Regions from separate parts of the Homo sapiens genome. Here region 2 is linked to region 1. Evidence: fine-mapped QTL for protein levels in blood plasma. A gene starts in region 1. The other region holds a variant in brackets. All regions are shown on one strand. Distances are between the middles of the regions.

Region 1 (8,866 bases):
AGCAAATTAGGGGCTGGGAATGCCCAGCTTGTTTAACAGCCTATAAGATCAGTGGCACCCCTCCACCTGAGGCTGCCCCCCAAAAACAAGGAGGCAGTGCCCAACATCAGTGAGGTATGACTAGAGGTGGCATCGGAAAACTGCAGTTCCAGTCCCAGCTCTGTCTCATTGGTTGTGTGCCTTGAGCAAGTCACATGACTTTGCTGTATGTCAGTTTCCTCAGCATTGCCCAGGGTTGCAGTGAGGATCAAATAAAGATCAGTGGTTCTCCAACCTGTGCTAGAAGTTTGTAGATGAATTATGTCAGGCCCTGTACAAATAAATGTACAAATGTGTCATCTGCAGGGCACTAAGTAAGGTGGATGCCTGTTGATGGCAGGGGCACAGCAACCCCATAGCCTTCTGCTTCCCCTTGGACATTCAGGGGCTGGATCAGGGCTGGATCAGCTATCAGAGGAGGGTGAAGTCCTCTGGAGCCACAGCCTCCCTAGACTGCCTCTCTGGAGCCAGCCTCTCTAGCCTTCCTAGCTAGAGCAAGGCCCCAGGACATCACCCTCTGCTCCCCGCATGGCCCACCCACATATGTGCACCTATGCAGTGTCTGCAGAGTACCTTGTGGCTGCCGGGGTGGCACTCCTCGCCTTCCCGCCCCAGCGGGGTGCACATCCGCAGCCCTCGAAGCCACAGGCTGATGGCACAGCAGGTGCCTGCCCCACACTGGACATCCCGCTCACAGGCCTGTAGGAGGGAGAGAGAAGGGAACAGTTCATTAGTGCACCCAAGAGAAAGCAGAAGGGAAGGGTAGATCCAAAAAGCCCTTATCAGGATGGAGCAAGAAGAGGCTGAGAGTATCACCCCCGGCCTTAGCCTAACAGAACACCCTGGGCCACACTTTATTGCCTTGCTCCCCTCGTGGGGAGGCTCAGGGCTCAGGGGGGCATTGGATCTGGATCTGAGGAAACTTCCAAGCTCCTGGAGGCCACTCAGAAGGAAGACAGTCCTCCTTTTCTGACAAGGCTGGAGGTTAGAAGGCATAGCTTTTCTAGGGCTAAGTAGATGCTCAGTGGATGCTGGTGGAATTGAATTAATTAGAATTCTCAGAGGTGGGAGGGACCCTGATGGCCCAAATTCCTTGGTGGTCAGTACTGAGCTGCCTTGGACCAGGAGTCTCCAGCCCTGACTCTGCACTGTGGTCAGTCCCTCCCCTCTGCATGGAGGCACCCCCATCCTGGCCCTCAAGTGGCCCAGCCTCAGCAGAGGGGCCAGCACCCCAGTGAACAGGTGCCTCTCCCAGGGTTTCTCTACTGACTTCCATGATTCCCAGAGAGGATCGCAGAACAGGAGCTGAGCGGCCCTGCCTGGTTTGGGGAAGGTACCATTTGTAAAGAAGGCCACATTAAATAAGCTCACATTTAACATGAGCCCACGTTAAATAAAAGCCAGAGCCGGGGAAGACAGAACTCTTAACTGCTCCAGACTCAGGTGGGGACCTGCTGAAGAAGCATCCACACTTGCCATTCTCAGAGATGCTATGTGGCTTTTCTGAGCTGAAATGCAAAGCTGGGTTTTGGATCACTCTTCTCCAATAAAAGCCTATGGGCACCTTCAGGCTGCTGTGTGGGACGTGGCAGGACCTGGAAGCCTCCTACTTGCTCAGACCCAAGAGGGAAAGAGTGGATGTCAGCTCCACAGATCATGCAGAGGAGTTACGGGTGGTGGGCACCCAGCTGTGCCTGTCTCCAGCCCAGCAAGGGCACGTCTCACACCCAGCCAGGCCACAAAAGCTTGGGGTTGGGGTAAAGGAAACCCCAGTCGACTCTTCTTCTCCCATAGAGGTGGGGCATCACTGTCCCACTCTTGGAAGAAGGATCATAAAGCCTTGGATGTGGGGACAGTTACAGTCCAGGGAGCAGGGGAGTGTAGAGGTGGTGGAGCCTGGGCTCCTGCTGAAAATCAGAAGTGGGACACCAGCAGGACATGGAGGATGTGGGGAGCCTGGGGGTTCCTGACTTCCCCTTACTGCCCTGTTCTCACCACTCACCTGTCTTTCCTGGGTTTCCCTCACCTAGGGAAAAGTGCTCTCTATTGTGCTTTTCACCGTGAAAATGTTTGCCTGCCGCTCTCAGATCTGCCTGCCCTGCTGTCACTCTGGGCCAGTGCTGGAGCTGGCACGGGTGGTGAGGCAAGCCTGGCATCCAGGCCAACCACGCTGCTCCTGCCCTCACCGCGCAGCAGCCGGGGCTTCTCTCCATTGTTCTTGCCCTCCCAGATTTTCAAGCTACCCCATAGAAGGGCAGCCTACAGTGTAAACACTTCATTAGGTATAATTCTGCCTTCACAATTATTTTTATTTTTGCTTTGGATCTCAAAAGCATTTGACTCGCCTTTAATATTTGTTCTTTTGAACTCAGTGTTTTTCCTTTAAAAGAGAAAAGAAAGAATTTGTCCTTTCTGTGAATGGTAAAATTAACCCAATTCCAGGAATTGTTTGGCATTTCTCTACATTTCCACTATCCATGTAAAAAGCTGGTGGAGGCTGAACTAAAAGTTAGTTTCCCTGCTTCCCCGACCTTTTTCTTCCAGTGGATTTTATATGGAAAGCTCTCAGGTACAGCATTGCTTTCTGCTTCAGTAAGAATGGTCCTGCTACCATAACACATCATGTGCCCCTATTTGAAGGTGGTTTGAGGTAAAAGCAAACTTCCGAGAGAAAACCATGATCTGAATATTTTGAACCAATTGTACAGTGCCCATATGCTGAACCTTTGCTTCTCTGCTTCGAGACTGGATATCTACTTGTTATCTGGATGCTTGCTTTGGGGTACACTCAGCTGAATGTTAGTGGCACCCATATTCCTCTCAGAACTAACTAGGCAGGCACAGAGTGAAAGAGTTTCAAAGATATCCTTTCTAAGCGGAGGTTAAGTTTATACAATAGAAGTTTATAAGCTTACCACCTTTAATTAAGCTTACTGCCTTTAATTAAGTCAACATGCTATGTAAATTAATATTAATATTAATATGTGAATCAGACCATAAATAAAAATTAAAATTCACACAAAAGATAAGTTAAGGTTTGCCAATCCACTTTATAAAGGAATTCCTTATTACTTAATAGGAATCTTCACTTTACCAAAGGACTGAACTTCAAAATGTTCAATGCTCTGCTAACACATTGAAAACAGGATTTGATTCATACACAGCTTCTCAAAAGCAGATCCCATTTAGTAGAGTGAGGTCTAACTAGTCTGAAAATCGCATGCAATCCCTTTAATGCATAATTCCCCATTCCCTTTGGTTCACACTGTGTTGAGCCAACAGAGCCTCCTGCATGGTTCCTGGGCTCACAACCCGTGCAGACCCTGACATCTTCCCAAAACCCAAGGCACAGAGAATGTTAGGCGACTTACCCCTGTGATCACAGCACAGTCAGACACAGTTACTAGGAGGAGCATGATTGAGACTCGCGTGGCACCTCTCATGGTCACTTGGGGTGAAGGCAAAACACTGCCTGCTTAGATGCCTCTCGCTTCCTCCCGCTCAGCCTTGTGCCTGGCAAGCTGGGGAGGCCAGGCTCTCCTGCATCCCCCGCCTCCTCCCAGATGTTTACACTCAGGATCCAGGGCTGCCTGTGGATGCCTCATCTCTGCTCTTCCCTTCTCCAACACCGATGTTACTCAGATGATCTCAGAAGCGAAGATGAGACCTGAATCTCTAACAACATCAAATCAACATCAAAACCAATAAAAATGGATACTTGGGGGGCTTTGACGGTTGCTCTAACTCTCCCAAGAACGCAGTGATTCAGACAGTTATGTATATTTCACTCAATGTTCTTTTCTGCCTCTGGGTATCCTTCTATCCTACTTGGGGCAGAGGAAAGCCTCTGGTAATGAATTAAGGGATTTGCAACATCACCATTTATGCTTCCCTGCACCAAACTATGCAACATACAAGATTATTGGTTCCCTCTCACTCACACCAAGACTTATCTAGGCATTTACCATGGGCTCAACACAGAGGTAGCTGAGAAGACAGAAGAGGGTGAGGTGGTATCCTTATTTCTCTAAAAGGTTAAAATTATAGTGAGGAGCCATAAGACAGTGAGGAAAAAAAGACCAGACTTGTGGGGCTGATGTTCCTAAGTGACACACACATAAGGATTTGCTCTCTCATGGGCTCAGGATGAACACCAGCAAGTGTCCCTTGGTACAATGACCCAAGGGCAGAAAGCCAGCAAACATACAGGGCACACACTCTCTCAGTACCCTGCAGAGCCGAGCTGGTATGGGCTGTGGCTGAAAGGTACCAGAGCCACACCACTGGCCTTCCAGTTTTAGGGGTGAGCATGAGAGTGGCCTTATCCGTGAGTGTATAAACACGGTGGTCTCAGATGCCAGTCTGGTGGGAAGTTGACTTTCGGGATGGCCCCTCCGCCTGTGAGGGAAGCCCCTGACCCCAGCCCTCTCTGTGTCATACGACCCAGAGAGAGCTCCCAGTGCTTTGTCAGATGATCTGCCTTCTCTCCACAGTAATAAAAGCCAACATTTCCCAAGGTATGTGTTGCAATATGTTAATACACAAATAAACAAATAAAAGACTTCTACAGTCAAAAATTTGGGAAACACAAACCGGCTTGTTTTTTGCAGAACTTTTCAGGGCCTTTCATATGCTAATAAGTGTTTGAAACACCAAGTGGGAAATGCAGTTTGTAGTATTTCACAAGCAGATTCATCCACAAAACCTTTCTTATCAAATGTCACAGGGGTCTAGGGTTTCCACATTGAAACGCTGATAGGCATTTATGAGTGCAGAGAGGAAGGTTAACTAGCACGGGAGCTGGGAGCTAAGCCCCCAGAGGCAGATGCTTTGATTCAGATCGATGGCTTCATGACCTTGAAAATATTGCTAATCTCTCCAAGCCTCAGTTTTCCTATCTATAACATGGGATAAGAATAGCATTTACATCATACGATTTTGCGAGTATTCATCTATTTATTTATTCATTGACTATATTTATTGAGAGCCTACTGTATAGAAGACACTGTTCTTGGCACTGGGAATATAGCAGTGAACAAAACAAAACCCTGTCCTCATGTAATTTTGACTATAGTCAAGGAGACGGGTAATAGACAAATAAACAGATTTGTAATAAAATGGCCAGTTGTGTTGAGCACTGTTAAAAAGGAAGGCCAGGCGCAGTGGCTCATGCTTGTAATCCCAGCACTTAGAAGGTAGAGGCAGGCGGATCACTTGAGGTCAGGAGTTCGAGACCAGCCTGGTCAACATGGTGAAACCCCATCTCTAGTAAAAATATAAAAATTAGCCAGCTGTGGTGGCTCACGCCTGTAATCCCAGCTACTCGGGAGGCTGAGGCAAGAGAATCACTTGAACCTGGGAGGCAGAGGTTGCAGTGAGCCGAGATCGCGCCACTGCACTCCAGCCTGGGCAACAAAACGAGACTCCATCTCAAAAAATAAAAAAAAGGTGGTGGGGAGAAAGGCAGGGAAAGCAACAGACCTTGACAAGTGGTGATATTTTAGATGTGGTAAGGGTCTGTCTGAGAAGGCACTTGTGCAGATGACTGATAAAGTGAAGGAGTGAGCTGGACAGAGCCTGGATGAAAAGTCAGTGCAACAACCCTGTGGCAGGGCTTTTTGGCCAGTTCCAGGAGAAGCAAAGAGTGAGGTGAGCCAGGGGACGGGATGGGAGGGGATGCAGTTGGAGCAGGAGCCAAAGACCAAATCCAGCCTGCCTTGTGGGACATGGCAGGAACCTGACTCCAAGTGTGATGGGAACCCTTGGAGAGTTTGGAGCAGGGGAGAGGCAGGATCTGGTATACACTTGGATTTTTTTTAGAGACAAGGTCTTGCTCTGTTAGCCAGGTTGAAGTGTGATTATAGCTCACTGCAGCCTGGAACTCCTGGGCTCAAGCGATGCTCCTGCCTCAGCCTCCAGAGTAGCTAGGACTGTAGACACACACCACCGCACCTGGCCTGATTCACACCTTGAAAGGATCCCTCTGACTGCAGATGGAGAGTTAAGTGAGGTGATGCATATGAAGTGCTTACCACAATGCCTGGCACACAGCAGCATTTGCTACCAATGGCCAGTTTTTTCTATAAACATATGAACTTGTATGCCTTAATATAAAATTCTCCTGGGAGGTGAGAATCAAAATAATGAGTCTGTAAGGCCCACCTGTACACTGTGACACTGGGCCGGGCTGGTGACAGAAGAATCAAGAGACCATCCGAGCCTTGGAGGACCTTCTGCTCTGGGAGAAAAGCTACCTAGGGAGGAGGCAGCACTTTGCTGGGGGCTTGGAACACCTTACAGAAGTGGTCCTGTGGGCTCTGCTTGCCCTGCACACACTACCCCACCTCACAAGTTTGCCTTCCAAGAGACAATGTCAGATCAGGTGATTCTCAGGCTAACACCCGTCCCATTCGCTCCCCTATTCTCACTCCCTCCCTCCCCACTGCCACAAACACACAAAACTAATCATCTCACAATTGCAGTGAAGAATGGTAGCAAGAAATGCTGTTGCAAAACAAAACCAATAGCATTGATTAAAAGCATTTTATTTCTCTTGAATGCTAGTGCTTGAGGAAAAGCCATTTTAATTAGAGGAGGACAAGGGACAGAGGGCAACTTGGTGGAAATCCCAGAAGAGACTCTGAGGAGCTCCGGGGATAAGCAGTACTGATTCTTTATTCAATAACTCAATTACACATTCATTCAGTTCCTTCCATGTGTCAGGACCAGGAACTCGCACTTCTAGGGTCTAATTTCCCTCTAGACCTTAGAGCTCTCCTGTTCCCTTGTCTAGGTGGATTTCAACAGTACTTGATTCTTTTTTGCCATGGTTAGGGTTACTTTTTGGCTGCCAGGTGCAGTGTGGAAAAGGACAGTGGAAAGGAGAGGAAAACCCTGAACTAAGCAAGCATGAACTGGAGGAGACAAAGGAGGGAAGCCGGAGGGGAGGTGAGACAAGAAGCAAGTGGTAAAAAATGGAGGGGAAACGGTGAAAGTGCTAAAAGTGGACTTGGTTCCGCTGAGGGAGGAGAGAGCTAGTGGAGAAGATGTGCCGGGCAAGCCTTTCCCAGAATCCTACACACCTGCGGAGAGAATGAGGGCAGGTGGGCAGCATGCCATTGAGTGTCTGTGTAGAAGGGCTACGTGCAGTTCACATCTCATAACGTCAGCCTGGCCCTTATTTCTCTGCTTTAGCTGATGTCAGTGTCACCATGGACCATTTATACAGATGTGTGTGTGTGCGCGTGTAGCAACAGCCAATCTCAAGGCCTACCTTGAGGGGCCCCTCAAGATGTAGGGCGACCTTCTCATGGAGTGAGACTATGGAGTGGAATATTCCCTGACCTGGCATAGTCCTCTGAGACTGTTTACCTTCAGGCATGGAGTAAGTCTCACCTAAGCATGGGGGAGAGGTTGAGAAGCCCCTTTCCACTCTACCTTAAGATCATGGTTATTGTTCTGCAAGCTAGAAAGGGAGCCCATGTCCAGGGGTCTCCTTGCTCCTGCCTGAGTGGGCGGATCTTGTGTTAATGTTTGAGCACATGTGTTCAAATATGCTCCCTTTGGCTGGGTGCAGTGGCTCACGCCTGTAATCTCAGCACTTTGGGAGGCAGAGGCAAGTGGATCACCTGAGGTCAGGAGTTCGAGACCAGCCTGGCCAACATGGTGAAACCCTATCTGTACTAAGAATACAAAAATTAGCCAGGCCTGATAGCATGTGCCTGTAATCCCAGCTACTCGGGAGGCTGAGGCAGGAGAATCACTTGAACCTGGAAGGCGGAGGTTGCAGTGAGCCCAGATCACATCTCTACCTGGGTGACAGAGTGAGACTCTGTCTCAAAGAAAAAAAAAATGCTCCCTTTATTACTGGTTTGTTGCTAATGATTAAACAAGAATTAACTCTGATCCGTTTCAAAAAGAGATGAAGAAAGGAATAATAGAATAAAGGAAACCCAAGCATCCAGGCTGGGGGTTGTTAACTTGGAGTCACAGCCCTGAGGAGCTCATGAGCAGAATTCAGAGAATCCATAAACTTGGTAGAGAGAAAAATTGCATCTTAATGTTCACTAACTTCTAACTGAATTTTTAACATTTTCTTTGAACCATAGGCCACAAACTACAAAAGTTTTAACAGTACCGTGATTTTGTTGCCAGGAGAAATTACAGATGTTTTTATGTCATATTACTATTGCTTCAAATAGCTCCAAATATCATTCCTGCTCATCACTACCTTGAAATCACTGTAGTTACTAGGCTCCTTGCTAGATTGTTACTTGATCCATTAATAAAGAAGTGCATGTATTACCATGTCACAAATTTGTTTTTAATAAATATCTTGATAACTTTATTTTAATAAACTTGATATTTTTTATAATCTTACATATTGTATTTTATACATTTGAAGTCATTATTCTGAGCCATAGGCTTCAAAGGGGCCTACAGCACAATAGCCAAGAACTCCGGGGGTAAACTCTGGAGACTCGGAGCAAAGGAAAGATGCAGCTTAGTACAGTGCAGGGTCATAAATTCAGGCCAGCTGAAAGCCTGAATTTAAACTGGACAAATCTAAGAAGAATTGGAAGAGGAGGAGGAAGAGAAGAACAAGGAGAAAAAAGAAGAAGAAAACAAAATAGAAAGAGAAGAGTACCATCCTGGCTAACATGGTGAAACCCCGTCTCTACTAAAAATACAAAAAAATTAGCCGGGCGTGGTGGCGGGCACCTGTAGTTCCAGCTACTCGGGAGGCTGAGGCAGGAGAATGGTGTGAATCCGGGAGGTGGAGCTTGCGGTGAGCTGAGATCGTGCCACTGCACTCCAGCCTGGGCGA
Region 2 (16,612 bases), 18 kb before region 1:
CTGCAGACCTGTACAGATAACTACCACTGCTAACAAAACAGGGTGTCCCTGGGCACTGATTTGTTATAGCCACTTTGTGGGTCAGTCCCCAGGCTCAAGGAATCTAGACCAAGGGGAGTCATCCCCCTCCAGCACCAGGTAACCAGTGATGAAATCTTATCGTGGCTTTTCTAAACACTTTTTAGAATTTTTAGAATTCTGCAATTCAGCAAAAGATGACTGAATCATGTCCACACTTGAAAAGCCCCAGAGCCTGAAGAAGACTAAGGGGCCCTGGGGCATTTGCTGTAGGACAAATAGAGAGCAATTGCTCAAGTGGAAGAGACCCCAGGAGGTGGAGACCTAACAAACGTCGCCCCGCACATTTGTAGAAATCCCCACCCTTCTTCTTCCTCCCCACAAAATGGCCACTGTGCGTGGTGTAATGGCCCGTCCACGTGCTGAGGTCAGCAGAACATTTAGGTGAGAATAACTCCCAGCCTCCATACCTGCACAGTTATTTGTTCTGCATTAAGTGGCCTGAGTCCTGGAAACCTCTGCCCAATGCATGATGGAATTGCCAGGTCCTCTTGGGAGAAAGAATGGGGCGTGGGCCCCACCCTGCTCATGGAAGAGCATATTATTAGTTCTGAGAAACAGCAATAGTGAAACCTATTCCTGGTTCCTGAATGGGAAGGGAGAGGGGGATAGAAGGAAGGAGAAGAGGCAATTACCACAACTACCATGCAGGCCTCTGGGCAGGGAGGGCGGCACCCAGCAGACAGAAGCCCATAGGCTGGTCAACCAGGACCTCATCAGGCCACTCCCAGTTCAGGAGCCTTTACCAGCAGAGACCTGCAGACCAAGCTCCTGACCACCAGGAGTCTGGCCCCATCCACTTTCCCAGCCTCATCTCTGCAGCTTCCCAAACAGGAACCAGGCACAAACACTCACCATGCCTCAATCATGACATGCATGATCCTGTCTCCACACTCTGCTCAGTGCTTCATTGAGATTGGAACACCCTCCCCACCTCTCTCCATCTTGGAGAAACTTACCTAATACTTTTTGATGTGTTTCAACGTGACATGCAACTTCTCCCCTCACTGTGCTTTTACCTATGCTATACCTCTGCCCAAATGCCCTTCTCTCTATTTTCTGCCTACCCATCTTCTTCAAGATTCTGCTCAAAAGATATGTCCTATGGGCTGGGCATGGGCTCAGTGGCTCACATCTGTAATCCCAACAATTTGAGAGACTGAGGCAGGAGGATCACTTGAGCCCAGGAGTTCAAGACCAGCCTGAGAAATATAATGAGACCCCATCTCTGTTGTAAATAAATAAAGAAATAATTTTAGAAAATGATATGTCCTGTGTGAAGCCTTTTCTTATATCTCCTATGAGATCAATTAGGAATGGGTTTGGCTGCAAGTAATTGAAAATCTGACTACAGTGGTTTAAATAGCAGTTTATTTTTCTCACAAAACAAGAAGTCCAGAAAAATACAGAATTGGTTCAATGGACACCACTGCAATTCATTTGGCCTTTTCCTTATGGCTGCAAATGGCTGTTACAGCAGCAAACATCGCATCCCATCCCAAAGCAAGAAGAAGGGGAAGCGGGAAGAAGCAGTACCAGCAGACCGCTCATGCCTGATGAACTTCATTTTATAGCTCCCAGCTACAAGGTAGGCCGGAAAATTGAGGATTGCACTTTTTTGTCTGTATAGTGGAAGCAGACAATCAGGTTCTGTTGAGCCCACCCACATTGTCTGCAGTAACCACCCACTCCACCACCAGCGCAGTTTGCTCCTCGGTCTGGGATGTTCTCAGAGTGCTTATCTCACTGCTCAGTGATGGCTTACACATCAGCCTCCCTCTGGACTAAGAACTCTAGGGCAGGAATTTTGTCTGAATTTTCTCTGTAACTCTAAACACCTAGAACAATGCCTGACCTAAAATAAGCACTCAGTAAATGTTAAATTCATCCTCCCATTCACTCAACAGCTATATACAGAAGTAAGCAAATGAGGCCATGGGACTTCCTTCCCAAAAGAGGTCTCCAGTGGCTGAAATCAGGGAGTAAGTGCCCACGTGACCCACATATGGACAGTCAGTGGCCTGTGGCCCACCACAGCAACACCTCCTCCTCTGCCAATGAGGTCACCTGGCCCTTGTGCCAAGCACTGAGCATGTAGAGGTGAGTAAGCTCCTCTCCCTGCCCTCAGGGAGCTTGTAGTCCAGTGGAACACACAGACGTGTAGGCAACTAAGTATAATTCAATGCATGAGTCCTTTCCTTGGCTTACGGACCAGTGCTACTGGGGAAGGGAGAGTAGAGCACTCGCCTGTATGAGGAAAGGCAGGGAGCTTCATCCAGGGATGAGCTGGTATATTGATCATGTTCTCTGATTTTCCATATTCTTGATGCTCTGGCATCTGGGGCCTTGATCCTTGAGAGACTGCCCTCACAGGACTAGCTAATTCCTAGGCATGGCGAAAGACTCCCCTGTGAGCCTGTCTTTGATATACGAACCAACCCACCCACAGCCCACACCCCCAACCCTCTCCTTTATCAAACTCTCAAAAAGCAAGCCAATTTTCTCCCTGCCCTAAACCACCCCAGGGTCAAATACCACTCCTCCAGCCCAGAGTCCGCTGAAATTACTCAAACTATACAATTCTAAGCTTACTCAGAATACCTACCCTGTGTCACCCATTCCTTCATGTAATAATGCAATAAAGGCTCTATGTCACAATTTCCTTTCCCTTGACCACCCCAGACAACTCCCCCCCAACCTCCACCTCCTGACTGACCCCAGTGCTTCCCAATGTGGCCCTACATGCCTCCTATGTCTAGGGGTCTGTAAGTATAAACTTCTTCCTTCATGACAATCATGTCCATGTCTGCATGTCCTACCATACCTAATTAAAACAAACCCCAGGTATAAATTTCAGAACAGCTGGCTAGAAGGGATATAATGGGGCTAGTCCTGGGGAGCATCTAGCACATCCCTAGGCAGATCTAGCCGGGAAACTCAGCTGACAGGTGCTGCACTGATCAAGGTAACACTGAGATGCTGACTTAGATACAGAGTGAGAGATGAGATGACCCCTGGGAGATCCTCCTCCCCCTAGTCTGGACCCTCTTTGATGCTCCCAACTAGAGGACTAGACATCAGTTTCATGATGCTCCTGCCACTAACATTTCAAGCTAATTTGGGAAGTGGTGAGGAGAGATCCAGCTGCCCCCTCAGCAAAGCATCAAGCTTGATCACATAACAATGAATGTTGGCAAGCATGGCCACTGACCAGGCAGCATCCTAAGCCCTTTACATGTATAAAATCACTTCTTCCCAGCCACACACCACCACAATCCTGTAAATGAGGTACTATCTGTCTCATTTTAAGGGAACCGAAGCACAGATCAGTTCAATAACCTGCCCAAGATCACACAGTCAGTAAGGGGCAGGCCCAGGATTCAGACTCAGGTAGCATGACTCTAGAATGAGGGCCCTGGATGGTGACAACACAAAGCCGGAGCTGACACTTGCATTTTTGTTGCTACAGTGCCCAGCAGGCACCGTGGAGATGGGGGCAGATGTCTGGAAGCAGAGAAGGTGCCGAGTGGAAAGCAGGGGATGAAGGCTACTTTCCTCCTGGGCAGCCGCCGGCGGGACCAGGCAGGCTTTTCTCTCTCGCCCAGGGTGCGGTGTAGAGCCTCCACTGGACTCCACCACGGGGAGGAAGACCGAGGCTACCCAGCCTCCTGGCTGCTGGCCATGGCTCTAGCCCACCCTTGCCTGTGTGTCAAGAGAGAATCCAAAACAATGTTCCTTTTGCTGTAAAGGGCATGATTAGGACAATTGGCAAAATAGTCTACATCAGATGATAGTATTGTTCTGATATTAATTTCCTGACTTCGATATTTGTACCAATTTTCATGTTAATATTTACAAGAAAATGTCCTTGATTTGGGGGGAATACTGAAGTAAAGAGTATTATGTCAGGCCGGGCACAGTGGCTCACGCCTGTAATCCCAGCACTTTAGGAGGCTGAGGCAGGTGGATCACTTGAGGTCAGGAGTTCAAGGCCAGCCTGGCCAACATGGTGAAACCCGGTCTCTACTAAAAATACAAAATTAGCCAGGCGTGGTGGTGGGTGCCTGTAATCCCAGCTACTTGGAAGGCTGAGGCAGGAGAATTGATTGAACCCAGGAGGTGGAGGTTGCAGTGAGCCGAGATCGCGCCATTGCACTCCAGCCTGGACAACAAGAGCAAAACTTCGTCTCAAAAAAAAAAAGAGTATTATGTCTGCAACTTGCTTCCTAAAAGATCCAGGGGAAGAAAAACATACATATATGTTCTATATAATTTATATAGCTATGTGTTTTCTTTATACTTATGTATTAAATATCAATAATTATATATTTTATATATATTTAAGTTTTATTTTTATACATAAAATATATAAATATATTACATATTATATAATATAATATATATTTTAATACCTAGAGAGAGTGAGAGAGAGAAAAGCAGAGGGGAAGGGGAGAGGGAGGAATAGCGGACAGAAAAATAATGCAAATGTGGTGAGGTGTCAACATTTCTGATATTTGGGTTAAGGTATGTAAGAACTCTTTCTGCAAGTTTGAAATTATGTCTAAATAAAAAGATTTTAAAGATTGAGATAATCCAAAGGCCTCTCCAAAACCATATTTATAAATTTGACACATGCCACCCCGCATGTCCAGAGGAAGAAGGTGGAAACTAGACAGGGAGAGAGCCGGTTACTCACAGCCTAGGGCCCTGCCCCGGGAAACAGGCAAATGGATCCAAATTCACTGGGGGCTGCAGGGAAGTGGGGTTAGCAGACAGGTCCTAAATCCCATTTCAGAGTATTTTTCAGGTAGGGAGGTAAAAAGAAGAGGAAAGCAGAGTGGGAGAGAGGAGGATGGGGTGAGAAGTTTCTCTGGTAGGAAACAGGTCCCTTCCAGCTCTGTCCCCACCACCACACAATACCTAGGCACCAAGACTGGACAGGGCAGTCCTAAAATGGGATGACGAAGATGGACATACAGAACACGAGCCCTCTGCAGGACAATGAGGCATTAGCACCAGGTCACACATCTTGAGATCGTGATTGATTTGCTTTGTAAATACAGTTTGTGCTGGGCACTGTGGCTCATACCTGTAATCCTACCACTTCCAGAGGCAGAGGCAGGTGGATCACTTGAGCCCAGGAGTTCAAGACCAGCCTGGGCAACATGGTGAGACCCTGTCTCCAGAAAAAAATACAAAAATTAGCCAGGGGTGGTGGTGCATGCCTGTAATCCCAGCTACTCAGGAGGCTGAGGCTGAGGGAGGATTGCTTGAGCCAGGGAAGTAGAGGCTGCAGTGAGCCAAGATAGCACCACTGCGCTCCAGCCTGGGCAACAGAGCAAGACCCTGTCTCGAAAGAAAGAAAGAAAGTTGTAAGGAATCGCTTAGTAGTTGGGAAGGAAAACTGGTTCAAAATTTAATGTTTAAGATCTTCATAATATTAGATTTGGTGAGGTCTCCTTGATATGACACCAAAAGCACAAGAAACAAAGGGAAAAATAGATAAATGGGACTACATCAAAACTTAAAACCTTTGTGCATGAAATGACACACATCAACGAAGTGAAAAGGCAACCCATGGAATGGGGGAAAATGTTTGCAAATCATATATCTGATAGGGGCTAATATCCAGAATATGTAAAGAACTTCTACAAAAAACAAATAACTTGATTTATTCTTTTTCCCTTTTTTTTTTTTTTTTTTTGAGACAGAGTCTTGCTCTATCGCCCAGGCTGGAGTGCAATGACGTGATCTCAACTCACTGCAACCTCCACCTCCCAGGTTCAAGTGATTCTCCTGCCTCAGCTTCCCGAGTAGCTGGGATTACAGGCACCCGCCACCACACTCGGCTCATTTTTGTATTTTTAGTAGACGGGGTTTCACCATCTTGGCCAGGCTGGTCTTGAACTCATGACCTCATGATCCACCCACCTCGGCCTCCCAAAGTGCTGGGATTACAGGCATGAGCCACCACGCCCAGCCATAACTTGATTTTTAAATGGGCCAATGACTTGAATAGAAGTGATTTCTTCAAAGAAGAGATACAAATGGCCAAGAAACGTATTAAAATATGCTCAACATCACTAATTATTAGGGAAATACAAATCAAGACTACAATGAGATATCACATCACACACATTAGGATGGCTGCTATCAAAAGAAGGGAATAGGGGAAGAAGGAAGGGAAGGGAGGAGGGAAGGAAGGAAAAGGAGGGAGGGAAGGAAGAAGGGAAGGAAGGAAGGGAGAGAAAACGAGTGTTAGCAAATACTTAGAGAAGCTGGAAACCTTGTATATTGCTGGTATGCATGTGAAATCGTGCAGCCACTATGGAAAACAGTATGGCAATTCCTCAAAAAATTAAAAGTAGAACACTGTATGATTCAATAATTCCACTTGTGGGATTCTTCAGTTCACTCAGATGAATTGAAAGCTGGGTTCCAAAAAGATATTTGTATACCCATGTTTGTAGCAGCATTATGCACAATAGCCAAAAGGTAGGATCAAGTGTCCATCCACAGAGGAATGGATAAACAAAATGTGGCATATGTGTGTATGTCTGTGTGTGTGTGTGTGTGTGTGTGTGTATATATATATATGAATATTATTCAGTCTTAAAAAGAAAGGACATTCTAACACGTGCTACAAAATTGATGAATCTTGAAGATGCTATGTTAAGTGAGATAAGCCAGTCACAAAAAGACAAATACTGTATGATTCCGCTTATGTGAAGCACACAGAGGAGTCAAATTCAGAGACAGAAAGTAGAATGGTGGTTTCCAGGAGCTGGGACCAGGGAGAGAATGGGGATTTATTGTTTAATGGGTACAGAGTTTCAGTTTGGGAAGATGAAAAATTTCTGGAAATGGATGGTGGTGATGTTTGCCCAAGAACATGAATTTACTCAATGCTGCTGAACCATACCCTTAAAAATGATTAAAATGGTAACTTCTATGTCACATATACAACACAGTAAAAAAATAGGTTTACTTGTAAATAAAAATCAGTATACTCTTATGAACCAAATATCATAAACTATAATCTAATGAATGGAATATGCACCTTTTGAAAACTCAGAATATAAAGAGGGACACCTTCAGGTTTTATGTTCTGTCTTTGAACATCTGCAAAACTCACTCCTCCCTGGCCTGGTCACTGTGAAAAGTAGAGGGACAGGGTCTCAATCATGGGGTTTTCAGGAGTAGAGGCGACCTTGGCAATGTCTCTTACACAGCCCTGGGTCCCTGAGTGCCCACTGTGTGCTCAGCGCCCCTGCTCTGCCCTTGTGACAGTCATCCCTCCCAGCCTCGGCGTCCTCATCTGGAAACATCTTCTACCTTGTAGGTTTTTTGTGATGATCAGTGAGGCCATGCAAGGTGCCTGGCAACAGCAGGCACTCGATGAATGCAAGCTCTTATTATTCTCCTCTCATCTAGTCATCACCAAGAGCATGCAGGGTGGTTGCTATTATCTATATTTTACAAATGAGAAAAATGAAGCTTAAAGAACTTAAGTCGTTACTCAGCTCCAAGATGAGAAGACAGTGTTGCCAGGATTTCAATCCAGGACCAGTTCAACTCCAGAATCCATGATCTTTCTACCCCAGCCTCTCAGGCCTCATTTAACAGATAAGAAACATGAGGCTCAGTGACATTGGCAAGGGTGAAAGCCCAGATGACCACAGGGGCCAGGCAGGTAATGGAGAAGAATATGTTAGCTGATGTAAAAAAAAAAAAAAAATCGCCTACCAGAGATTCTACCAAATTATATCTATTTTTACTAAACTAAGGAGTAGGCATGTAACATTTTATGGGCCTACAAAATACTAGAGATTGTGCTTCAAATTCTAAATTTAAAAATAAATGTTGAAAAATAATTTTAGGAGAAACCAGATCAAAAAAGAAAAAAATGCAATTAATTTAATTATCTTCCAAATTGCTTCATTTCAGATGTCTCACTATGTTGCCCAGGCTGGTCTCGAACTCCTGGCCTCAAGCAATCCTCCCACCTCAGCCTCCCAAAGTTCTGGGATAACAAGCATGAGCCACCAGGCCCAGTGTCCTTCCAATTTTTTTTTTTTTTTTTTTTTTGAGACAGAGTCTCACTCTGTCACCAGGCTGGAGTGCAGCGGCGCAATCTCGGCTCACTGCAACCTCGGCCTGCCAGGTTCAAGCGATTCTCCTGCCTCAGCCTCCTGAGTAGCTGGGATTACGGCGCACACCATCAGGCCTGGCTAATTTTTGTATTTTTAATAGAGACGGGGTTTCACCATGTTGGCCAGGATGGTCTCGATCTCCTGACCTCGTGATCCGCCTGCCTCGGCCTCCCAAACTGCTGGGATTGCAGGTGCGAGCCAACGCACCTGGCCCCAATTTATTTTTTAAGCATAATGCAGGCCAACACCTGCAGACCAAATTGTCTGCAGGTCAGATGCTAACCCCAGCCACCAGATGGCCACCCTGAGGAAGGTATAGTGGAGGCCAAGATCAATGGCGGGTTCAGGAACATTTGAAAAGAAAGATAATATCACAAGTTAGTGCCACTGTGGGAACCCACACTAGGGATGCCAGGATTTGCCATTTTCCAAGAGATACAGGAAATGTGGATGTGGGGAGAAATATACCAGCTTTGAAATAAGAGCAACCATTTGTTTTTGCACTGTGCAGACAAAATAGCAGAGGTCTATAGGGCAAGCCTCTCCTCCCACCCAGTGACAGTCTACAGGATGAGCCACTTCACATATTGGCAAAGCCCAGACTAAAGAAAAATCTCCAGACTCCCAGGCCGTGATGGAACCAACCAGTGTCTTCTCCAGCCTGGACCAGTCCAGAATGGGAGCAGGAGGTCCCGAGGGGAAAGGATGGAAGGGGGAAGGAGACTGGCGGATGCCCAACCCCGACAGTCCCAGCTGAAGGAGACAGGTGTACAGACACTGGGGCATCAAACTCTGACTCTGACTTCAGGGTTCAATTATTTTCTTCTGTCAGATTTTTGCCCAAAGCTATACCCAAAGATTTTCAGTAATCCCACGTCAGTGGAAGGACTGCACAACATCTAGCCACATTAATTAAAGAGGATTTTTTTCCTCTGAGACGAACGTGTGTTAAAAATATCAAATATTAATCACTGGCAACATTAATTTATAATAACGCTTGTCTCCCTCTCAGCTTCTAAGTTGACATCTGGCATGACTGCTTTGAAACTAACACCCGCTCCATTGCAGGAATTATAAATAGCCTGAGTTAAAATCTTCACCTTGAACTGAACAGACTGACTCCACGGGGTGGTTTACGAATGAAGAGGGCTGCAGCATGCAGTAAAATCCGGGGTGGGTCTACTTGGGGTAACAGTCAAAGAATTTTTTTAAGGCAGCAATCCTGAAGCAGGGAAGGGTCAGGGAGAGGGGTATGAGCACAGAGGGCCCTGCCCTGCTTCCTCCTCATGGGGCAGGGTGCCCAGGTGCAGGGCTGCAGGAGGCCAGCCTCACTCCCACTTGGCCCATTTCATGAGCCATCAGCGGAGGGGGTGGGCACAGGCTGTTCTATTCCACCCTGATTAAGTGCACAATCCAGTTTCTATACTTGAGTTTTGAGGATTGGTTGGTGCAGACACTGTCTTTTATTGAAGAGAGGGCAGAGCCCACTTTATATAAAGAGAAGAAAAAATTCATCTATCAGCCTACAAAGCACGTTCACTCCATAAGCCTATCTAGTAGTGATATTCACAGTTACTGTGGCTCCTCTCTGTGCCAGCCTGGGGCTTGCTCCTCGTATTTAGTCCTCACAACAACATCACAAGATAAGCTCTAATGGGAACCTATTTTACCAATGAGGAAATTGAGTTAGAGGAGCAAATTCCCCCAGGTCCTGTAGCTAGGCAGTTGGCGGGTGGAGCAGGATTCAAACCAAGAAGAGTGAGTGAATGGGGCCTTTTTGCTTCACTCCTTTCCAACATTTCTCAAGCTGCTAAAACTCTAGCTTGCCAGACTTCCTCTCCAGAAATCCAGATCCAGTGGCTCTGGGATGCGGCACAGGACCCTGGGTACTTCACAAGCACCCCAGGTGAGTTTAACCCTAGGGGAGTTTGGGGGAGCACTGCCGAGGGTGCCCTCGTGACAGCCTGTGGGCAGCCAGGGGTTACTGTTCCTGTTTACCAGACGTGGAAACAGACCCTGACTCCTCAGGGTGCTGAGATGAGACTTTTGGTCCCAGGACCGCCAAGAGGACCTCTGACCACCAGCCTGAAGGTCAGAGAGAGGACAGAGCAGGAAGACAGGGCGCCTTGTAGAGTGGGAAATAGTGGGGACAGAGTCTGAGAAATAGGGTGGGAGACGTTGGGGGCAGTATATGGTCCCACTTCTGATTGCATCCAGCTCCTCAAGGGCTCAGGGGAC[C/T]TCTGGGGCAACCCAGAAAAGCCCCTTGTGGCCTACATGCTTTGCAGTTAGGCCACCTCCAGGGGACACTGGGGCCCCAACTTGTCCAACTAAGACTGCAACAGGGAGATAAGGCAAGAACCCTCTCTCTCATCTTTCCCTGGCTGGGGCCAAATTCCCGTGGGTGCTTAGCTCCCCTGAGACCCCTCACAGGCTCTTTCCTCTGACCCTACCTCCCTGGGCCTGCACCAGAGCCTCTTCTCAGGCCCCTTCTTGAAGGCTAATGAGACCAGGCATGGCCAGCCTGACACTGCAGGCTCTCAAATGTCTCATTGTCCTCCCCTCACGCTGACAGTAAGCTGCAGGCTGCCTCTGCCCATGGGGCTACTGCTACTAAGATACCACCCCCAGCAGCTCCTGCAGTGGGGCAGCTCCCAGGAGAGGGTCCTGGGCCCCGCCTTCTGTTGCCCTGACTCTCTGACACCCCCTGGAGACCCTGAGCATTGCATCTGGCAGCCCAGGTCCTTGTCTCATCCCTTCCCAGCTGAGCCCCAGATGGGTCCAGGGAGTGTGTATGTAGAACACATGTTGCCTCCTGGTCTGGGCCTCAGAGCAGCCAGCTCAGCCTCCTCACCTGCAAGGCTTTCCAGAGTCCAGGTGGGGGCCCAGCTGTTTGCCTTAAAGTGCACGGAAATGACTGCCTTTCAAGGGACCTCCTCTCTCTCCTGCGCAACTGCTCCTCTCTGTATTCTTTTTCCCCCTTTGCACTTTGATGACTCAGGTTTTCACAGGCACAATAGTTCCCCCTTTGAAACCTAATTCTGGATGGGCACAGACCCAGGTGCGCACACACACCCTTCTTCCTCCCTCTCCCGGGCTTGCTAGTCCTTGCTTTAGCATGAAGACTACCCTCTATCTTAGCTGGAACTTCTCCTAATGGAAACTAGCCTCTCTGCCACTTGGAAAGAAAAGTAGAATTTTCATTATTTGTTTAACTGATTTCCTTCAAAGGTTGGGGTGATGGGTTAGGGTAGTGTTTCTCTGGGAGTGGGAGGTACAAGGAGCACCTGCATCAGAGTCCAAGCTGTAGAGGGGCTTGTTGAAGGCCCCACAGAAGCAGAGTCTTCCTTTGGTGCTTGGCAGTAACGTCTTCCTTTGGTGCTTGGGAACTGGTGGTCTAGGGGGTGAGCAACATTCCCTAGCACTGCCTCCTTCTAGAAGGGAGTCGCAGCAACAGTGAGGCCTGTCTCAGGGAACACACATGGTTTGGGAGGTTTGATTTGGACACAATCTGAGAGGAGCCAGGACAGACTTCAAAGCCCACTCTCCTTATGCTTTTTCTACCAAAAAAAAAAAAAGAATAGCACAGTATTAAGATCATAGCCCATATTGAGCAAACATTCCATTTTACTGTGAAACAGTGACTCATATGTTTAAGCAAGGTATTAAGAAGTACTTAGATAAGATTTGTGTATCTGTGTTCCCAAATGGAGCTGTTATTGAGCTCTGCCTACATAAACCTGTGCTTCTAAACTTCAAGATAATAACAGAACATGATCTGAACAAACTGATTTCTTCCTACCATGTTCAGCTTCTGGGGAATTGAAGCACATCCGAGAAAAGATTGTTCGTTCCTTCCTGGACATCTTATTGGTTTACCTCACTGAAGAGATCCCTCCAGGTAATGCTAGTGTGGTGTGCTGGTTACAACACGTAGGTGCTATTTTTATTATTGCCATTGTACAGATGGGGAAACTGAGGTACTGAGAGGTTTAGTAACTTTGGGTCCAAAGTCTCTAGTAAGCATCCAAACTAGGGTTCGAACTCAGGCAGTCTGTGCAGTGAACCACTGTGCTAACCCCCCGTCAGGAAACATAAGGGAGCTTTGCCGCTAATTTGATGAGAAATGCCAATCGAGCAAAATGTAAAATAACAAGAACATGTCAAGCTGCCATTTGACATATTTGTTTACTTAATCTTTGGGGTTTAGCTTTGAGACAGAATTTCACAGGCTCCTCCATGACTCGTCTCCGTCAGAAATGTGCCCACGTCTTCTTACTCACACCAGTGTTTCTCTCTGTTTAGATCCAGTTAATCCTCCTCATTAATCTTCAGCTCCCAAATAAAGGCCCCTCTGTCCTCACTAGACCCAGAATATTTTCCTGCCCTGTACCAGGCCAGCCCCCGCAGGAGCTCCGAATCCTTTTGAGAACCACACTCGTGTTTTTCTCCCAAGGTACACAGAAACAAATATGTCTGTGACTGACGCGCAGCAGAGTCTATCGAGTAGGCAGGGGGCTGAGACAGGAAAGGATCTTTTGGACAAAAGGACCATAAATCATATCCTTCCTGTGACCTGGACCAAGTGGTCTTCCCAAGACCCAAGCACTGCCCCTCAGGTGAGCAGAGAACTGGGACAGGACACAGCAGAGTGGCAGGGACCTAGGGTGTGGCTGCAGACCATGGCTGTGTGCAGGCCCCAGCAGAGCCCTTTGTCATAAATATGGGATGGAAAACCTCAGCAGGGAAGCTGACTCTTTCGTTCACCTAAAGTTGTTCACCTCAGTGATTCTGTGGCTTTGGGCTTCTGAGTCTAGCCATGGCCCCAACCAGGGTTGGAGCAAGAGGTGGCAACCCATCTTTCAACCTTATTCCTTGTCAGGGTCAGCTGTCCAGGGTGTAGTTCTAAAGGGGGCACAAAACATCCCTGCAGTCAATAGAAGACTCAGAGCCAGTTAAGGCCTGTGCCAGATAACTCAGCCACTACATAGGGATCTCTCTGTTCCCACCAGGGTGGGCAGTGCCCTCCAGTGGAAAACAAAAATTCCTTGCACTCATCTTAAGATGCAGTCCCAGGAAACTGAAACCCCAGACTGCAGAGTGCACAGTATAGTGCTTTTGTTCTGCTCATAGGCAGTTTCTTTAATCATCTAAATTGAAAACAGTTTAGTATGCCATTGGTGTAAAAGATGTTTGGGGTAGAAAACCACATATAACAAATGCCTTATTTGGTACATTAGCAAAGAAATACACAGTTTGGGTTAATGTCAAATCGTTCTCTTCAGCCTACAAAACAAATATTAAATGAACATTTTTTAAAATATCCATTTGAAGGAATATCAAGTCACAGTCCAGCCCAGAACACCCACCCTCCTCACTCCTGATGTGCCCCAGGGCTTGAGGATCTCCTGGGTCCCTGGAAGCACCAAAACTCAGAAACTGTGAGCCCCGGCCCCTTCCTGACCTCATCTTTTCGATTCTACAAACCGAAGTTGTAGAGCTATTTTTTTTTCTTTTTTACTTTTTGGATTTTAGTATTTTTAAAACAGCTTTATGGTGATATAATTTACATACCAGACCATTCACCCATTTAAAATATACATTTCAAATAATTTTTAGGATACTCACAGAGTTGTGCCACCATGCCTACTAACTAATTTTGAACATTCTTATGGCTCCAAAAAGAACATTAACAGTCACCGCCTATTTTCCTACCTGCAGCCCACCCCAGCCCTGGGCAACAGCTAATCTACTTTCTGTCTCTACAGAGTTACCTATTCAGGACATTTCCCATAAATAGAATTATACAAGATGTGGCCTTCTGTGACTGGCTCTTTCACCCAGCATGATGTTTTCAAGGTTCCTCCATGTTATGGTGTATATCAATACTTCATTCTTTTTCATGGCTGCATAATACTCCATTGTGTGGATATAGTGTGTTTTATTCATTCACTTGTCATTCGATGGAGAAAACCTGTTTGTTTAACAATGGCTCTTATTGTTTTCCTTTCCAGCTCCCAATCAGAACAGGTGTCCCCAAAGATACCCAGACAGAGAATGTGCCCCCAGGCCACCTTGTGCTTCCTTCCCCCACTGGTAGAATCTGATTTTTTGACAACCCAGGCGAATCCTCAAGGTTGACTCTTGGGCTAGACTCACAGGTCAAGGCCGACTACTGGGCCAGGCGCAGTGGCTCACACCTGTAATCCCAGTGCTTTGGGAGGCCAAGGCAGGAGGAATGCTTGAGACCTGGAGTTTGAGACCAGCCTGGGCAGTATATGGGTCACATTTTCAAGTAGCAATTTCTGGAACTCAGTGATTGTCACTGTCAAGGGTATGAAGAAGTAGGAATGCTGCTGTGGTCTGAATGTCCCCCTGAATTTATGTGTTGAAATTTAACCACCCATGCAATAATATTAAGAGGTGGAGCCTTGCGGGTGATTAGGTCAGAATAGGATCTGCCCTTGTGAATGGGATTAGTGCCCTAATAAAAGGGCTCCAGGGAACTAGCCAGCCCCTTTTGCCCTTCTACCTTCTGCCATATGAGGATAAAAAGAAAGCCTTGAGCAGACACTGAATCTGCTGGTGCCTTGATCTTGGACTTCTCAGCCTCCAGAATTATGAGAAATACATTTCTGTTCTTCATAAATTACTCGGTCACAGGTATTTTGTTATAGCAGCAGAAACGGAGTAAGACAAACATCAAGTGTTGCCCTCCATAGCTCGAGGGTCTTGGCCCCACCTCAGCCCCTGCCCAAGCACAGCCACCCTAGACAAAACACACACTCTAAGTAAAATCCAGCTGTCATTCGTCCTGCAAATTCAACTCTGAAGCAGGTCCCCAACCTCGGAGCCTCTGCTGAGCTGACCTTTCCCTTTGGCTTTGGGAGGCTTCCTGCTCCTCCTTGGGTCTCACCTCTGGCCACTGCCTCCTGGGGCCTCAGAAGGGGATCACTGGACAGGAGGAACAGCAGTCAGCATGCACTCACCTGTGCCTGCTCAGTCATCAGCCAGTTGGCATTCTATGGACTACACTGTCCCATGTTCACTGTTAAATATTCAGGTGGAGCTGGATTTAGCAGCAGATTTCCACTTAATCTCCTTTGAGTGTTTCAGGCCCTCAGGAGAGCTCCCAGGATAACTGCTCTGGCGGCTGCCCTCCTCTCAGTCTGTGTCTAGCCCTTCCTCCTTGGTGGCGAGGGCTCCAGGCTCTAGCCCACCCCGGCCTCCCTCTGGATACCAGGGAGAGGGTGGAAGCCTTGACCAAGGTGAATGACAGAAATGCAGATTTGGGGAGGGGATCGAATGATGAAAAATCCTCAGAGAGGCAGCTCTTGCCGTTCATGCTGTGTCCCAAGGATACACAAATGAAGGAAGGGGACACTCAATAGTGTTATTCCGACCCCTGCCCACCTCCACTTTCTCGATCCTTGAGAAGCTGTGAGAGGGGATGCCCTCAGCCTTTCCTAAAATCCCAGCAGGAAGAGGACAGCAGCTCCGAAAAAAGAAGTTTCCAGGATGGCACAGGGCCCAAGTAGCAATTAAGCATTTTTCGTGTGGTCCATAGGGTGGCAGACTTCTTTCCACAAACAGAAGTGCCGTCCCTCTAAACCTGTTACTGAGACTAATGTTTGAGGATAGCTGCAGAATGGTCCCTATCTGCTTTGAGGAGTGGCCTCTGAGTCGCCCATCTTTTCCACTTCAGCTCCCCTGTGCTGTCCCCACTTCAACCACTAGATGGTAGCAGACACCACCAGTTGGTGAGGAAAGTGTTGGTGCAAAATAGGAGGTAAAGGCTGCAATTGAAGGCTCCTCCCTATCTTGAAGCTATGTCAGTTTCATCTGTTTCTAATTTAATTTAATTGCATCTAATTCATTTTTCTTATAGGTACATTCTTATAAGTAAATTATTTTTATATTTATGAAGAACATATTCCTGAATATAAAGAATACTCACAAATGTATTCTTCTTAACCCCCCGAGCCTCTCCTTTCTCCGCCCTTTTGTCTTCAGTAATAGGAATGGGGACCAATTCTACATTCCTCAAAATTCGGATAATAAGAAATGAGAATGGTCTCTACAAAAATAAAAATAAAAATTAGGCAGGCTTGGCCAGGTACAGTGGCTCATGCCTATAATCCCAGCGCTTTGGGAGTCCGAGGCAGGCAGATCACTTGAGGCCAGGAGTTCAAGACCAGCCTGGACAACATGGCTAAACCCCATCTCTACTAAAAATACAAAAATTAGCTAGGCATGGTGGTGTGTGCCTGTAATCTCAGCTACTTGGGAGGCTGAGGCACGAGAATCACTGGAGCTCAGGAGACAGAGGCTGCAATGAGCTGAGATCGTGCCACTGCACTCCAGCCTGGGCAAGAGCGAGACTC

Which allele goes with the higher level. Positions count from the first base shown, and alleles are read on the strand shown. Strength reflects both the effect of a copy and how common the allele is.
With allele T in place of C in region 2, the plasma level of the protein whose gene starts at base 3,550 in region 1 is higher (weak association).

The links. PIP is the posterior inclusion probability: the model's chance that the variant is causal. Protein levels are from antibody-based Olink assays in UK Biobank. Linkage for the fine-mapping came from a reference panel and not from the study's own genotypes, which makes the PIPs less certain.
Region 2: its variant is fine-mapped to the plasma level of the PROK1 protein (UK Biobank, PIP above 0.99).

What each region holds. Positions count from the first base shown.
Region 1 is chr1:110,445,833-110,454,698 of GRCh38, reverse strand. PROK1 (prokineticin 1) reads right to left here and starts at 3,550. Exons shown (of 3, transcript NM_032414.3): 1 at 3,411-3,550; 2 at 613-738. The coding sequence starts at 3,482.
Region 2 is chr1:110,459,796-110,476,407 of GRCh38, reverse strand. It overlaps LOC105378899 (a long non-coding RNA gene), which reads left to right and starts at 2,762. Exons shown (of 2, transcript XR_947699.2): 1 at 2,762-2,843; 2 at 3,548-3,866. It overlaps LOC105378898 (a long non-coding RNA gene), which reads right to left and starts at 2,651. Exons shown (of 2, transcript XR_001738181.1): 1 at 2,614-2,651; 2 at 2,326-2,464. The variant C/T (reference allele first, on the strand shown) is at 10,470.